Regions from separate parts of the Homo sapiens genome. Here region 2 is linked to region 1. A link means that fine-mapping ties the variant in region 1 to the expression of a gene that starts in the linked region. Tissue or cell type: whole blood. Region 1 holds a variant in brackets; the other region holds the start of a gene. All regions are shown on one strand. Distances are between the middles of the regions.

What was found. PIP is the estimated chance that this variant, and not a neighbour inherited with it, causes the effect.
Region 2: CD37 starts here. The variant in region 1 is fine-mapped to the expression of CD37 in whole blood (TOPMed, PIP 0.98).

The regions. Positions count from the first base shown.
Region 1 is chr19:49,277,146-49,285,246 of GRCh38, forward strand. No RefSeq gene overlaps it. Among named protein-coding and RNA genes, the nearest start is that of MIR4324, 28 kb to the right of the region's middle. The variant A/G (reference allele first, on the strand shown) is at 4,065.
Region 2 is chr19:49,331,155-49,339,255 of GRCh38, forward strand. It overlaps CD37 (CD37 molecule), which reads left to right and starts at 4,252. Exons shown (of 8, transcript NM_001774.3): 1 at 4,252-4,455; 2 at 4,560-4,632; 3 at 5,755-5,879; 4 at 5,993-6,067; 5 at 6,771-6,875; 6 at 7,546-7,782. The coding sequence starts at 4,387. It also overlaps a transcript of SLC6A16 not described here. RefSeq lists enhancers at 2,327-2,406, 2,677-2,946, 3,803-3,872, 4,363-4,482.

The sequences.
Region 1 (8,101 bases):
TTGACATTAATAAGATAGAAAATAAAGTAAAAATGCTAAGTAAATCCAAATGCCACTTGTGAATCTGATTGAGAAAAAGATAAATAAAAATAACAAAATGTAAAAAATGAGAAAAGAGACACAGCCATCAAATTTAGAATTTTAAGGACATATGCTATATGAAATCCTAGGTCAACAAATCTGAAACCTTAGAGGAAACTGAAAGTGTCTGGCAAATGTAAATTACTAAAAATAATCCAAGAATTTTGGGGAAAATTAATGGAAAGGGTTGGAAAGATGAGTAGAGATTTACTGCACAAATGGGCTCTGGGACCAGATGGGTTCAGAGATGAGTTCGATTTAACCTTTAAAAAGCAGATGGTTCTAATGTCAATTACACCAGGCTGCTCAAAGTGTGGCCCACGAATCCTAAGCATCACCTGGGAGTGTGATAAATGCAAATTAATGAACCTGAATCCAGATTCACCACATAAAAATCACTAGCGGGCGGCCGGGTGCAGTGGCTCACGCCTGTTATCCCAGAACTTTGGGAGGCCAAGGCGGGCAGATCACGAGGTCAGGAGTTCGAGAACAGCCTGGCCAACATGGCGAAACCCTGTCTTTACTAAAACTACAAAAATTAGACAGGAGTGGTGGTGCACGCCTGTAATCCCAGCTATTCGAGACGGCTGAGGCAGGAGAATCGCTTGAACCTGGGAGGCGGAGGTTGCAGTGAGCCGAGATCGCACCATTGCACTCCAGCCTGGGTGACAAGAGCAAGACTCTGTTTCAAGAAAAAAAAAAAAAAATCACTAGAAGATGGGGCCCAACGATCTGTTTAACCAGCTTTCCAGGTGACTTTCAGCATACTAAAGTTTGAGCAGCACTGGCTTAGGATCACAGAAAAAATAAAGAGCGCCTCAATTTACTTTCTGAAGCTAGCATAACTTTAATGCCAAAATTTATAAAAAGTAGAAAAAAACCCCTCATTTACAAAGACGAGATGAACAAGCTAAATATTAGCAAGTAGAATCTAGAATATATCAAAAGGATAATACATTACACCTAAGTAGAATTGATCCCACAAGGAGAGTTCAATATTTAAAATTCTATCAACAAGTCCACTAAATGCTAAAAAGCCATTTGGCAAAATGCGGCAGTTCTATGAATATACTAAATATCATTGAATTGTAAACTTTTTTTTTTGAGACGGAGTTTTGCTCTTGTCCCCCAGGCTGGAGTGCAATGGCATGATCTCAGCTCACTGCAACCTCTGCTTCCCAGGTTCAAGAGATTCTCCTGCCTCAGCCTCCCAGGTAGCTGGGATTACAGGCACCCAACACCATGCCCGCCTAATTTTTGTGTTTTTAGTAGAGGTGGGGTTTTGACATATTGACCAGGGTGGACTAGAATTCCTGACCTCAAGTGATCCACCCACCTCGGCCTCCCGAAGTGCTGTGATTACAGGAATGAGCCGCCATGCCTGGCCGAATTGTAAATTTTAAATAGGTTGATTGTGTGGTATATGAATCACATTTCAATAAAGCTGTCACAGAAGACTATCTTAGGCCTCTGGACAAAAGGGAGCTTGGGAGTGTCTGGTAGACATCTCTGATAGCAATAACTTTCCTTAACCCTACCCTTATGGCAGATACACCTGACAGCAATAACTTAAGCTGCCTCTGAGAATGAGGGTTGCCACGTAGAGGTTGCTAGGGGAGGATGCTAAGTGAAAGTGCCCTATGAACTGCATTTTTTTTTCTTTTTTTTGAGACAGAGTCTCGCTCTGTCACCCAGGCTGGAGTGCAGTGGTACCATCTGAGCTCACTGCAACCTTGCCTCCCAAGTTCAAGCGATTCTCCTGCCTCAGCCTCCCAAGTAGCTGGGACTACAGGCGCCCGCCACCATGCCCAGCTAATTTTTATATTATTAGTAGAGACGGTTTCACCATGTTGGCCAGGCTGGTCTCGAACTCCTGACCTCAAGTGGTCCACCTGCCTCAGCCTCCCAAAGTACTGGGATTACAGGCACGAGCCACCGAGTCTGGCCTGAACTGCATGCTTTTTGCAAATGGTTGTAGTTCTCCTGTCCAGTCCACCACCACTGGCCCATGCTGCAAGTTCCCCCAAATAAGCCCTGTGTTTTGTGTGCTGGCTCTGGGTCTCTTCTTCAGCCTCTTGAACTTGGTGCCATGGCTACTGAAGTTAACAGGCATTTGGCACGACAACCGATGATCCCAGCAGGAGGTTGGAGAAAATCCTGTGCACGCAGAGTCGATGGGATTGGAGAGGAGAATATCATCGGGGGGCATCTCGGGCTGGCTGTCCACGTCTGTGTGGGGCCCAACAGCCACTATCCTTGATGGATGAGGCCCAAGGCATGGGTACAGAGATGCCCCCAAAACACTGAAGGGTCTGGAAGAGCTATTGCAGGAGGTGGATCTAACTAAGCAAAAGTTAGATGCCTGAGCTGTGGCAGCTGCGGTTGGCTGGCCACTCCTGACTGTGCTCTGAGCAGCCTCGGGGGCCGGGCTCATGGCGCAGGTGAAGGTGCATCCATTACAAGATGAACTGCGATGACAAAGAGATGCCTAATTAGATCAGACTGAAACATCAGAGACCGACTGTCCTGCCTGCAGGCACGGGATGACAAAATGGAGAGACCCTGGCTTGTCAGGTATGGTCCATTTGAAAAGCTGCTGGCTGCTATGTCAATGAGTTAGGGCCCTCATGACTAAATCATCCTGGGACCCTAAGTTCTGGGACCCCATGGAGAGCTCTAGTGGGGAAGAGAGTGAGGCCTGGGATGAGCTCATGGAGGTGCCCATCCTCTCTGCACGTTTGCTGGTCAACACCAAGATGAAAGCCGACCAACCACAGACATAGGGGGTCACCCTGCAAGACTTGCCCCTGCCTGGAAGACACCATAGTGCGGGATTCCACGGCTGTGGAGTTGGTGGAGCTGGGAACTAGGTTCAGGAAGAAGGGCAGAGAGTCGGTCACAGGGTGGCTTCTCTGTCTATGGGACATGGAACAGAGATGAGTGAAATGGCATCCATCACCAACCATCCAGCCCTGAGGCGGTGCCTCGATGGCACCAATAATGACGATCGGGCCACCCCCTCCTTAGCCGGGTGGTTGCAAGCTGCAAGGCAGCCTGGCCAAATGAAAGGAATGTCCCAGCTGGGTGCAGTGGCTCAGGCCTGTAATCCCAGCACTTTGGGAGGCCGAGGCAGGAGGATCATGAGGTAGGGAGTTTGAGACCAGCCTGGCCAATATGGTGAAACCCCGTCTCTACTAAAAATACAAAAATTAGTCGGGTGTCGTGGCAGGTGCCTGTAATCCCAGCTACTCGGGAGGCTGAGGCAGAAGAATCGTTTGAACCCGGGAGGCGGAGGTTGCAGTGAGCTGAGATGGAGCCATTGCACTCCAGCCTGGACAACAGGGCGAGACTCCATCTCAAAAAGAAAGAAAGGAATGTCCCCACATCTCCTTTGTGATGACAGATTATGGAGGAATTGAGGGACATCCTCTGGGAATTAGGGGTGATGCTTGCTATCTACACTGAGCATTACCGAGGCCCTGACAAGGAGCTTTTCACTGCGGGCATGAGAAATGCCATCTTACAGTAGGCACACTACCAATGGTGTGGCACACTGGCGTCTATCTTGAGTCCCTTCATAGGAATCACTTGAACCTGGGAGGCGGAGGTTGCAGTGAGCCAAGATCGTGCCACTGCACTCCAGCCTGGACCACAGAGTGAGACTCCGTCTCAGAAAAAAAAAAAAAAGGCAAAAAACCAAGAATGCATCCAGGAGGCAAGGTGGCTTACGCCTGTAATCCCAGCACTTTGGGAGGCTGAGGTGGGCAGATCACGAGGTGAGGAGTTCGAGACCAGCCTGACCAACATGGTGAAACCCTGTCTCTACCAAAAATACCAAAAGTTAGCTGGGCACCTGTAATCCCAGCTACTCTGGAGGCTGAGGCAGGAGAATCGCTTGAACCCGGGAGGTAGAGGTTGCAGTGAGCCGAGATCGTGCCACTGCACTCCAGCCTGGTGACAGAGTGAGACTCCATCTCAAAAAC[A/G]AAACGAAACAAAAAAACAAGAATGTACAGGCTGTTCCCAGCGGATACTGGAGCTGAATGCACTCTCGTATGTGGTGACATCCGTGGTTCCAGTGGCCTATAACAATAGATGGTCGGTGGGGGCGGGGGTCGTGAAAGTCAGACAGGTTGAGCTAGTATTACAAGTTAGGAGACTGCTGCCCAAACCCTATTTAGTATACAGAGCTCCTATCCCAGATTACATCTTGGGAAGGGCTGTCTCATCAGGACTGTGACCCTCTGAATTGCGACTGAGTTAGGATGGTGAGGCGCGTGATCAAGGGGAATGCGAAATGGACACCAGCACAGCTGCCAGCCCCTCTGTGAATAGCAGCATTGAAACGACAACACCTGGCCGGGCGCGGTGGCTCACGCCTGTAATCCCAGCACTTTGGGAGGACGAGGCAGGCGGATCACGAGGTCAGAGGATCCAGACCGTCCTGGCTAACACGGTGAAACCCTGTCTCTACTAAAAGATACAAAAAATTAACCGGGCGCGGTGGCGGGTGCCTGTAGTCCCAGCTACTCCGGAGGCTGAGGCAGGAGAATGGCGCGAACCCGGGAGGCGGAGCTTGCAGTGAGCTGAGATCGTGCCACTGCACTCCAGCCTGGGCGACAGAGCAAGACTCCGTCTCAAAAAAAAAAAAAAAAAAGAAAAGAAAAAAGAAACGACAACACCTGCCAGGAGGTCATGATGAGATCATAGGGACTGAAAAGGAAAGAAGTCTGGGTAGACATTATAAGACCAGTGAACAGCCCATACAATAGCCCTGCATGGCCCATGTGGATGCCTGATGGGACACGGAGAATGACATATTACTGGGAGTTCAACAAAGCCGTCCCCCTAATGTATGCAGCTGTTCTCATATCGCCTCCTTTCTTATGAGGATAAGAGAGGGACTGCACGCACCTCATTTTGTCATTGCATTCACCTGGTATATTAGTCCGTTTTCAAGCTGCTATAAAGAACTGCCCAAAACTAGGTAATTCATAAGGGAAAGAGGTTTAATTGACTTACAGTTCAGCATAGCTGGGGAGGCCTCAGGAAGCTTACGATCACAGCAGAAGGCAAAGGGGAAGAAAGGCACCCTCTTCACGAGGCCGGGCGAAGGGGGGAAGAGCCCCTTATAAAACCATCAGATCTCGCGAGATCTCACTCCCTGCCACGAGAACAGCATGGGGGAAACCGCCCCAATGATTCAATTACCTCCACCTGGTGTCTCTGACACGTGGGGATTATAGAGATTTCAACTCAAGACGAGATTTGGATGGGGACACAAAGCCTAACCCTAGCTGGGCGTGGTGGCGGGCGCCTGTAATCCCAGCTGCTCAGGAGGCTGAGGCAGGAGAATGGTGTGAACCTGGGAGGCGAAAGTTGCAGTGAGCCGAGACCACGCCATTGCACTCCAGCCTGGGCAACAGAACGAGACTCCCTCTCAAAAAAAAAGCCTAACCTTTTCACCTGGGAAGGAGAACAATATACCTTTACTGTCTTGCCGCGGGGATATTTCCATAGCCTCACTATCTGTCAACGCCTAGTGGCCACAGACCTCAGTAGATGGACTACCCTGGAGAGGGTACATGTTTTCCTTTACATTGATGTTAAATTCTGAGTCTTTTGCCAGCTAACTTCTGAGTCTCTATAGCCCTCACCTTGCTGTCTCACTTGGTTAACAGAGGATGGGCGGTCAATGCAGACAAAGGCAGGGTCCAGGCTTATCAGTCCAATACTTGGTGTCATCTGGTTGGGTAAGACTAACGGTGTTCAATTTGCCATTCTACATATGGTGCAGGCCTACCCACATCCTACACCACCAAAGTGGCTGCAAACCTTCTTAGTTCTTCTAAGGCCGTGGTGTCCTTTTATTTCCCATTTGGCTCAACTCCTTAGGCCACTGTACCACTTAGTCAAGAAGGGGGCCAACTGGGACCAGTGGCAAAGGCAAGGACACAAACTTGTACCTTTAGGATTCTGGTTCCAGCTATGGAAGGGGACTGAAGTTACAGTGTCAGGGAGCTATAATTCTGCACTACGTGTTATGCCTTACAGCAAGTGGAAGATGTTCCAAAGGGGTTCCCATGCTAGTACATACCCAGTACCCCATAGTAGGTTAGCTGGGATTACAGGTGCCCGCCACCACGCCCACCTAATTTTTGTATTTTTAGTAGAGACAGGGTTTTGCCATGTTGGCCAGGCTGGTCTCAAACTCCTGACCTCAGGTGATCCGCCCACCTTGGCCTCCCAAAATGTTGGGATTACAGGCGTAAGCCGCCACGCCCAGCCAGCCTGTGCATTCTTAGGTGACCAATATATAGTTAGCTAGCTCTATATGTGGCCGCCAGTCTCCAGACACTCAGCCACCATTGCTCTTATCGGGATCCTGAGGCCTTAGCCTTTATCCTAGTCGAAAGTAGGACACCTTCCAGAAACCAAAATCTGGGAATGCCCAGAAACAGATTGTGGCCAAATGGCACGCATGCCTGCAACAGAGGAGTACACGAACTAGCACAGGGTTCCGTTTGCTGCTTGGCCCTGTCACCTATGTGACAGCTGAAGGACAGTCTTTGACAAGGCACTGAGCCTCCACATATTCCCTCCTTTATATAAGAGGGACAGGCCCCAATTCCTGACCAGGCCTGGTACACAGATGGCTTGTCACGAGGCAATCCTTCCACCTGTATCCAGCTGTCCACTGAGAGTATCTGGCTCGATACAGGCAAAGGACATGTAGCCAATGGGCTGAGCTGCCTGGATGGTTTCTTCTAGGAGCCGGACCCAACAGTCCTGTGCACTGACATCTGGGCACCATCTTTAAGGGGCCCACCATGTGCCTACTACAAGGAGAAACACAGGATTGGATGGTAGCAGGCAGCCCCCTTTGGGGGGCTGATATAGAAGAACATTCTCCACTGCACCTGGGGGATGCATGTAACAGTCTAGCGTCTGGATGCCCACACTGCATAATATCCCTATTGTCTTACTCCAGCCTCATGTGACACTTTGTAGAGAGGGGGCCAACCTATTTGGTATTGCAAACCAAGCACCAGGCCACTCTCGGGGTGATGCTGTCTCAGAAGGACACAACTTCCTGTTTCTTGTAAAATGACCATGAGGCTGGGTGCAGTGGTACATGCCTGTAATCCCAGCACTTTGGAAGGCCGAGGTGGGTGGATCACCTGAGGCCAGCAGTTTGAGACCAACCTGGCCAATATGGCAAAACGCCACCTGTACTAAAAACAAAAAATTAGCTGGGCATGATGGCGGGCGCCTATAATCCCAGCTACTTGGGAGGCTGAGGCAGGAGAATCGCTTGAACCCAGGAGGCGGAGGTTGCAGTGAGCCGAGATCCAGCTACTGCACTCCAGCCTGGGCAACAAGAGTGAAACTCTGTCTCAAAAAGAAAAAAATGACCATGACTTGCCCCTTCTTGTACTCACTAAACATCTCACTTTTCACCCATAGATGGTATGCAGCAAACCTCTTGCCAGCTGAGCACAGACGGTGGTCTCTCTCCAGAACAAAACAGACTGTTGGGTCTGCAGAGAGCTGCCCCTCTCCTCCACTGCGGGCCTGCCGTGGTGCCTCGCAGCAGTTAACCTGAGTACCTGAAGCCACTTTTATATTCATTATTTTTTCTGTTGTAGTTTGTATTGCTGCTGTGGTGTCTGGCTGCAATGCTCCTCCGCATACCTGGCCCCAGGGAAATGGTGGAAGAACGGTACAAGAATGTGAGGGCCATTCAAAGGTATGCTAGAGTGGCCAGGTCGCAGTGGCTCACGCCTGTAAACCCAGCATTTTGGGAGGGCCGAGGCATGTGGATCACTTGAGGTCAGGAGTTCAAGACAAGCCTGGCCAACATGGTGAAACCCCATCTCTACTAAAAATACAAAAATTAGCCAGGTGTGGTGGCACATACCTGTAATCCCAGCTACTCAGGAGGCTGAGGCAGGAGAATCACTTGAACCTGGGAGGCGGAGGTTGCAGTGAGCCAAGATCGCACCACTGCACTCTAGCCTTG
Region 2 (8,101 bases), 54 kb after region 1:
ACTCTTCAGTTTCTGGTAGCTCCTGGTGTTCCACTTTTTTTTCCCCTGTAGGGTCTTGCTCTGTCATCCAGGCTGGAGTGCAGTGGTGCAATCACGGCTCACTGCAACTTCGATCTCCCAGGCTCAAGCAGTCCTCCCACCTCAGCCTCCTGAGTAGCTGGGACTGTAGGTACATACCACAAAGCCCAGCTAATTTTTTTGTTAATTTTTGTAGACAGGGTCTCACTATGTTGCCCAGGCTGGTCTCGAACTCCTGGGCTCATGTGATCCTCCTGCCTCAGCCTCCCAAAGTGCTGGAATTACAGGCATGAGCCACCTCACCTGGCCCATAATAATGTTTTGATATATATAGTGTATGCAGTAACAGGTATTCTATTTGTAGTTGTTAGGATGTTTAAGGTTAGCTGATTTAACAAACAACCGTAAAATCTTAGTAGCTTAATACAACAGGTTGTTACTTACATAAAGTCCAAAATGCTTTATGTAAGTCCAAGGATAATTCTCAGCTTCCTGCAGCCAGTGAGTGAAGGGAGAAAGAGTAAGGATTATGGAGGACATTTCAGGCTGAGTCTAGAAATGGGCTGTGTCCCTTCTGCACCCATTCCATTGGCCCAAGACCAGTCACATGGCCTCAACTTCACTGCAAGGAGACCTGGGAAATGAAGTCCTCCTGTGTGCCTAGGAAAGAAGAAACCAAGTTGGTGAGCATCAAAGCTGCAGTGAGCCGTGATTGCACCACTGCACTCTGCCACCTACCCTTCGACTTCTGGTTAATCATGTACTCATCTCTGAGGAGGGATCAGTGGGTGGGAAGGAGGGATTGGTGTATTAGTCTCCTATGGCTGAAATAGCAAATTACCACAGACTTACTACTTAGAACAACAGAAATGTATTCTCACATGGTTCTGTAGGCCAGAAGTCCAAAATCAAGGTGTCACCAGGGCCACACTCCCTCCAGAGGCTCTGAGAGAAAATCAGTTCTTTGCATCTTCCATCTCCTGGTGGCTCCAGGAGTTCCTTGGCTTGTGGCTGTAGAACTCCAATTTCTGTGTCTACCATCACATGGTGCTCTCCTCTTCTGTGTCTTCTCCTCTGTGTGTTTCTTAGAAGGACACTTGTCAGCCGGGTGCGGTGGCTCACGCCTGTAATCCCAGAACTTTGGGAAGCTGAAGTGGGTGGATCACGAGGTCAGGAATTCAAGACCAGCCTGGCCAAGATGGTGAAACCCCATCTCTACTAAAAATACTAAAATCAGCTGGGTGTGCTGGCAGGCGCCTGCCTGTAATCACATTTACTCGGGAGGCTGAGGCAGAGAATTGCTTGAACCTGGGAGGCGGAGGTTGCAGTGAGCCGAGATCACACCACAGCACTCCAGCCTGGGTGACAGAGCGAGGCTCTGTCTCAAAAACAAAAACAAAAAACAGACACTTGTCATCAGATTTAGGGGTCACACAGATAATGCAGTATCTTGAGATCCTGAATGTAATTATACCCGCAAAACCCTTTTTTCCAAATAAGGTCACCACAAGTTCTGGGGATTAGGACATAGACATATCTTTTTGGAGAACGCCATGCAACCCACTATAATCAGCTATAATTATTTTTGTAGAAAATGATGGGAACCTGACTTAGGATGGTGGCCTTGGAAAGAAGTGGCTGGGTTTGCAATGTACTTTAATGGTAGAGCAGAGAGGCGTTGGTGGTGGTTAGAAACAGAAGCTGAGGGGCTGGGCGCAGTGGCTTACACCTGTAATGTCAGCACTTTGGGAGGCCAAGGCAGTTGGATCACTTGAGGTCAGGAGTTCAACACCAGCCTGGCCAACATGGTGAAACCCTGTCTGTACTAAAAATACAAAAATTAGTCAGGTATGGTGGTGCATGCCTGTAATCCCAGCTACTCTGGAGGCTGAGACAGGAGAATTGCTTGAACGCAGGAGGCAGAGGTTGCAGTGAGCCATAATCGTGCCACTGCACTCCAGCCTGGTCAACAGAGTGAGACTCCATCTCAAAACAAACAAACAACAACAACAACAAAAACCTGGGTGTGGTGGCTCATGCCTGTAATCCCAGCACTTGGGGAGGCCGAGGTGAGCGGATCACTTGAGGTCAGGAGTTCGAGGTCAGCCTGGCCAACATGGTGAAACCCCGTCTCTACCAAAAATACAAAAATTAGCCGGGCGTAGTGGGTCATGCCTGTAATCCCAGCTACTTGGGAGAATGAGGCAGGAGAATCGCTTGAACCCAGGAGGCGGAGGTTGCAGTCAGCTGATTGCACCACTGTACTCCAGCCTGGGCGAAGAGTGAGACTCTGTCTCAACAACCACCAAAAAAATAAAAGCTGAGGGATGAGGCAGGTGGTGACTCAGCGTTTGGATACAGAACTGTGTGGCTCAGGACTGGGTTTCAAAAAGACCCCTCTGGGGCTATGTGGGGGACAGACTGGAGGGAGAAACTAGAAGCCAGGGAGAAGCCTAAAGTCAGGGTCCAGGTAGGAGAGCAGGAGCCCAGAGCCTGCCTGAGCCCTCAGGACAGAGAAGAGGGGTGGAGTGGAGACTCAGCAGGCAGGAGGGATCTGGCTAAGAGACTGATGCGCTGTTGGGGAAGAGGGGACAAGATGGAGCTTTGACCTCATGACTAGATAGATGGTGGGGCTGCCTCAGATGAGGAAACCAGGTGAGAGAATTTGGGGACATCAGAGGAAACTGCAGAGGCCACTGGGTGTGCACCTGCAACCAGGCACTGCAGACCCAGATCTGACTGTCAGGATCCCAGGCTCAGTGCCTCCTCCTCTGGGGCCTCCGCTCCTCGGGCCCCACTGCAGAGGCAGGAAGTACCGCCTGATGCTCAGCTTCCGCTGGGGGTGTTGGCACGGCCCAGCGCCCTCCCCACTCCCAGGGACCTTCCCACCTCGAGCCTGTAGCACTTTCACTTCCCCAGGTACCCAGCCCCTGCCCCCAGCACCTGGGTGCTCCCTGGTCCAGAACAGGCTGCAGACTCTGAGAGGCACAAAAACAAGTGGGGAAGGGGGAGACAGAGAAAAGAAGACAGGCTGGGCACAGTGGCTCACGCCCATAATCCCAGCACTTTAGGAGGCCAAGGCAGGAGGATCACTTGAGCCCAGAAATTTGAGACCAGCCTAGGCAACACAGTGAGACTCCCATCTCTACAAAAAATGAAGAAAATTAGCCAGGCATGGTGGTGTGCACCTGTAGTCCCAGCTACTTGGGAGGCTGAGGTGCAAGGATTGCTCGAGCCTGGGAAGGTTGGGGCTGCAGTGAGCTATGATCGCACTACTGCATTCCAGCCTGGGCGACCCTGTCTCAAAAACAAAAACAAAAGAGAGATGAAGAGAGAAAGGAGGAAGGACCCAAAGAAGGGGCCAGAAGCAGAGAGAGGCCAGGCACAGTGGCTCACGCCTGTAATCCCAACACTTTGGGAGGCCAAGGCAGGAGGGTCGCTTGAGTCCAGGAGTTCCAGACCAGCCTGGGCAACCTAGTGAGACCCTATCTCTGTTTTTTTTTAATTAAATATAAAAAATACAACACTCCCACTCCATAGCAAGACCCCATTTCTACAAAAAATACAAAAATTAGCCAGGCATGGTAGTGTGCACCTGTAATCCCAGCTACTCAGAAGGCAGAGGTGGGAGGATAGCTTGAGCCCAGGCTACAGTGAGCTGTTTTCCCCACCGTACTCCAGCCTGGGTGAAAAGTGAGACCCTGTCTCAAAAAGAAACAAATATATAAATAAAATAAAGAAACACAGAGAGAGGGAGGATAGAGACCCCAGGAGGCAGGAGGACAGAGACCCAGAGGAGGGAGAGACTCTGCTGAGATAAGGGGACAGAGATGGGGAGTAGCAGGAAGGTGGGGACAAAGACCCAGAGAGGAGGAACAAGAGACCCAGGGCAGGAAATGGGAGACACAGCTGGATGCAGAGATGGGAGAGCTTAGCAGGCCATGAGGTCAGAGTGTCTGTGAGGTCAGCTGCTGTCCAGGGTCAGCCCTGAGGTCCCCATGCCCAGAGGTGGGTTCCAGTAGATCAGGGGTCCCTTTAGATCCCCCAGCGCCTGAGACATGGAGACCTGGGAGGGACTGCCCCATGAGTCCTTGGTGCCCACAAATTCCAAGGCCCCTCAGGTACCAGAGCATGTGTCCCAGTGGAGCAGGTGAGGGAGACAGGGACAGAGAGAGAGACAGAAAGCCACCTTACATGAAGCGGGAGTGGGTGGAGCCCCACCCCTGGAACTTCCTCTTTTGGGGTTCTTCCTTTCTCTCTCAGCTCTCCGTCTCTCTTTCTCTCTCAGCCTCTTTCTTTCTCCCTGTCTCCCCCACTGTCAGCACCTCTTCTGTGTGGTGAGTGGACCGCTTACCCCACTAGGTGAAGATGTCAGCCCAGGAGAGCTGCCTCAGCCTCATCAAGTACTTCCTCTTCGTTTTCAACCTCTTCTTCTTCGTGAGTTGCCTCATGGCTACCCAGCCGGGGCCCAGCCCCTGCCGCTAACCCAGCCCTCATCTTCCCCTGTGGCCCACCCCCGTATCCGCATCTCCTCTCCCCAGGTCCTCGGCAGCCTGATCTTCTGCTTCGGCATCTGGATCCTCATTGACAAGACCAGCTTCGTGTCCTTTGTGGGTGAGGGGGGCTGGGGCAGGTGGGAGGGCCTCCCCCAACCCAAGCAACTTCCTGGGGTCTCCCTTGTCTCAGGGAGACCTACGGTGCCCTACTCTGCAGGCAGGCTACAGGCTCCCATCCACTGCTCACCGGAGGCTTCTTGGAGCCTGAGTCTTCTTCCGGCAAATGGGGTTGTGCATACAAACAACAATGATCATGAGAGCCATTTCTCAAGCACTTCCTATCTGTCGGGACTTGTGGCTGGTCAGATGCCCCCACAAACCTTCCCCTCGCTTGAGGTTCAGAGAGGGGAAGCCCCTTGATGGATGTCATACAGCAAGGACGTAAAAGAGCCAAAATAACATTAATAATAGGAAAATAATAATGAAGTATGACCCTAAATAATAATGAAATATAACCCTAAACGCTCATATTTAAGAAGTCTTTGCCCTGTGTTGAGGACTGGGTTGAACACATGTCCTCATGTGTCTCTCAAAATGACCCTAGGGGCCGGGCGCGGTGGCTCACACCTGTAATTCCAGCACTTTGGGAAGCCGAGGCAGGTGGATCACTTGAGGTCAGGAGTTCGAGAATAGCCTGGCCAACATGGTGAAACCCTGTCTCTACTCAAAAATACAAAACGTTAGCCAGGCATGGTGGCACATGCCTGTAGTCGCAGCTACTAGGGAGGCTGAGGCAGGAGAATCACTTGAACCTGGGAGGCAGAGGTTGCAGTGAGCCGAGATCACATCACTGCACTCCAGCCTGGGGGACAGAGCGAGGCTCCAACTCAAAAAAAAACCCTAAGAAATAGATATCATCTCCTATGCCTCAGGGAGGTTTAAGGAGCCAAGCCAATGTCACAGAACAAGTGATAGGGCTGAAACTACTGGGGACGAGGAGGAGCTGAAGGAGGAAGGAGAGGGTAAGAGGAAGAGAGACAGAGATCCAGGGACGGGAAACAGGCCCAGAAAGAAGAGAAAGTTTCAGAAGGAAACAGGGACTCAGGGTGGGGCAGGGACAGAGTCCCAGAGAGAGGGGCACCAAGATACTGCTCCCCACTTGGGTGGCTGCCTAGGTGGGAAATGGGGCTGCCTGGAGCTGTGCCACACAGCTCATCATCACTCCCCTCACCTCTCCCAGGCTTGGCCTTCGTGCCTCTGCAGATCTGGTCCAAAGTCCTGGCCATCTCAGGAATCTTCACCATGGGCATCGCCCTCCTGGGTTGTGTGGGGGCCCTCAAGGAGCTCCGCTGCCTCCTGGGCCTGGTGAGTGCACCATCCCTCTCCGTCCCTAGGAACACTCCTATCCCCACCCTCAAAAATGGCCTGGGCCGGGGTTGCAGGGGTGGTCAGCCTGATCTCTCCACTCTGCTCCCCAGTATTTTGGGATGCTGCTGCTCCTGTTTGCCACACAGATCACCCTGGGAATCCTCATCTCCACTCAGCGGGCCCAGGTGAGCTTCCTGCAGTGGCCACCACCCACCCCCAGCAGGGAGGAGAGGGAAGGGAGTGGTGGGAGAGGGTGGAGAGAGACCGAAACAAGGGCAGACAGGGGCTAACCTAGATAAAGAGAAATAAGAGGCTGGGCCTGGTGGCTCACGCCTGTAATCCCATAATCCCAGCACTTTGGGAGGCTGAGGTGGGAGTCCAGGAGTTTGAGACCAGCCTGGGCAACATAGTGAGACCCCATCTATATTTAAAAAAAAAATCCGGGTGTGATGGTGTGCACCTGGGGTCCCAGCTACTTGGGAGGTCGAGGTGGGAGGATCACTTGAGCCAGGGAGTTTGAGGCTACAGTGAGCCATGCACTCAGCCTGGGTGACAGAGTGAGACCCTGTCTCAAAAAATAAATTAATAGAAAGACACACCGACCTGGACCAAGGGAGACAGGCATAAACAGCTCCAAAGGGAAACACACGGGAAAAAGAGAGAACAAGAGAAAGAAATAGACGCCCTGAAAGAAGAGACAGAGACTTATGAGCCGTAGAAATAGTGGAAGAAACAGAAAGACAGACCTGAAGTACACAGAGCTAGCCATTCAGTAAGGATTTGAGACTGGCCCAGAGATGCACAGGGCCCGCCTGAGGCTGGCACAGCCTGAGAGGGGGAGGGGTGGGGCGGGGAAGATAAGGCCCAGCCTCACTGGTGGCCTCTCAGCTGGAGCGAAGCTTGCGGGACGTCGTAGAGAAAACCATCCAAAAGTACGGCACCAACCCCGAGGAGACCGCGGCCGAGGAGAGCTGGGACTATGTGCAGTTCCAGGTAAGCCCCCCTCCTCCAGTTCCCTCCCGGACTGACCCGCCTCAGCCCTGTGCTTGGAGGAGACTCCACCCCAACGTGGGCCCGACCCCCAGCTCTACGATCCTAACACACCCCAATCCCTCCCAGGCCCGACGCTCCCCACTCCCCAGATGACACAACTGTCCCCGGCGTCGCCTGGTCTCCCAGTACCCAGACCCTGGCGTGGCTTCGCCATCTACCTCGAGAGACTCCGCCCCCGCCCCCGCCCCGACCAGAGGTTGTCAGGCCCCTAGTCCCAAGACCCTAGCGAGACACGGCTTCCTACCCCGTAGTGACTCTGGCTTCCACCGGACCCCGCCCCCGATGAGACTCACATGGTCTCGCACTCCTATTCACCTGTCGGGTATCAGAGGCTCAATTGCACCACCCACCCAATCTCTAGTCCACAGCGCGACCCTGCAGCTCCTTCCCCAGCCCCAGGTCACCCCGTGACTCGTCTTTCCCAGCCCCATGTTCCCGTAATGTCCCCTGGCTCCGGCCCCATCGTGACCCCAGCCCACTGTCCCCCACTCCACACCCACCACTTAGTCCCCTGCTCCCCGACCTGACCTCATACCCATCACCTTGTCCCCTGATCCCCAACATCATATGTCTCCAGTCCCGGTCCCTCTGACTCGTATCCCTCTCCCAGCTGCGCTGCTGCGGCTGGCACTACCCGCAGGACTGGTTCCAAGTCCTCATCCTGAGAGGTAACGGGTCGGAGGCGCACCGCGTGCCCTGCTCCTGCTACAACTTGTCGGCGACCAACGACTCCACAATCCTAGATAAGGTGATCTTGCCCCAGCTCAGCAGGCTTGGACACCTGGCGCGGTCCAGACACAGTGCAGACATCTGCGCTGTCCCTGCAGAGAGCCACATCTACCGCGAGGTGGGCAGGGGTTCGGAGCATAAACCTGTCGAATGGGGCGGGGCCTGCGGGAGGGGGAGGGCTGTCAGTGAGTAGCGGCCTGAGAAAGGGCGGGGTCTACGAGAAAAGGAAAGGTACGGCAGGAGGGGCGGGGCCCTCTGAAGGGGGCGGGGTCTGCAGGAAGGGCAGGGCCTAAAGAAAAGGCTGGGCTGGCTCTGGAATACAGATGTCTAGGGAGGGGCCAGGCTTGGAAAAGGTGAAGCGAGGGTGCACTAGTAAGGAGACTAGAGTGCCCTGGTGACTAGGGGAGCGGGTAGATGCCTGAAGACGGTGAGGGTTG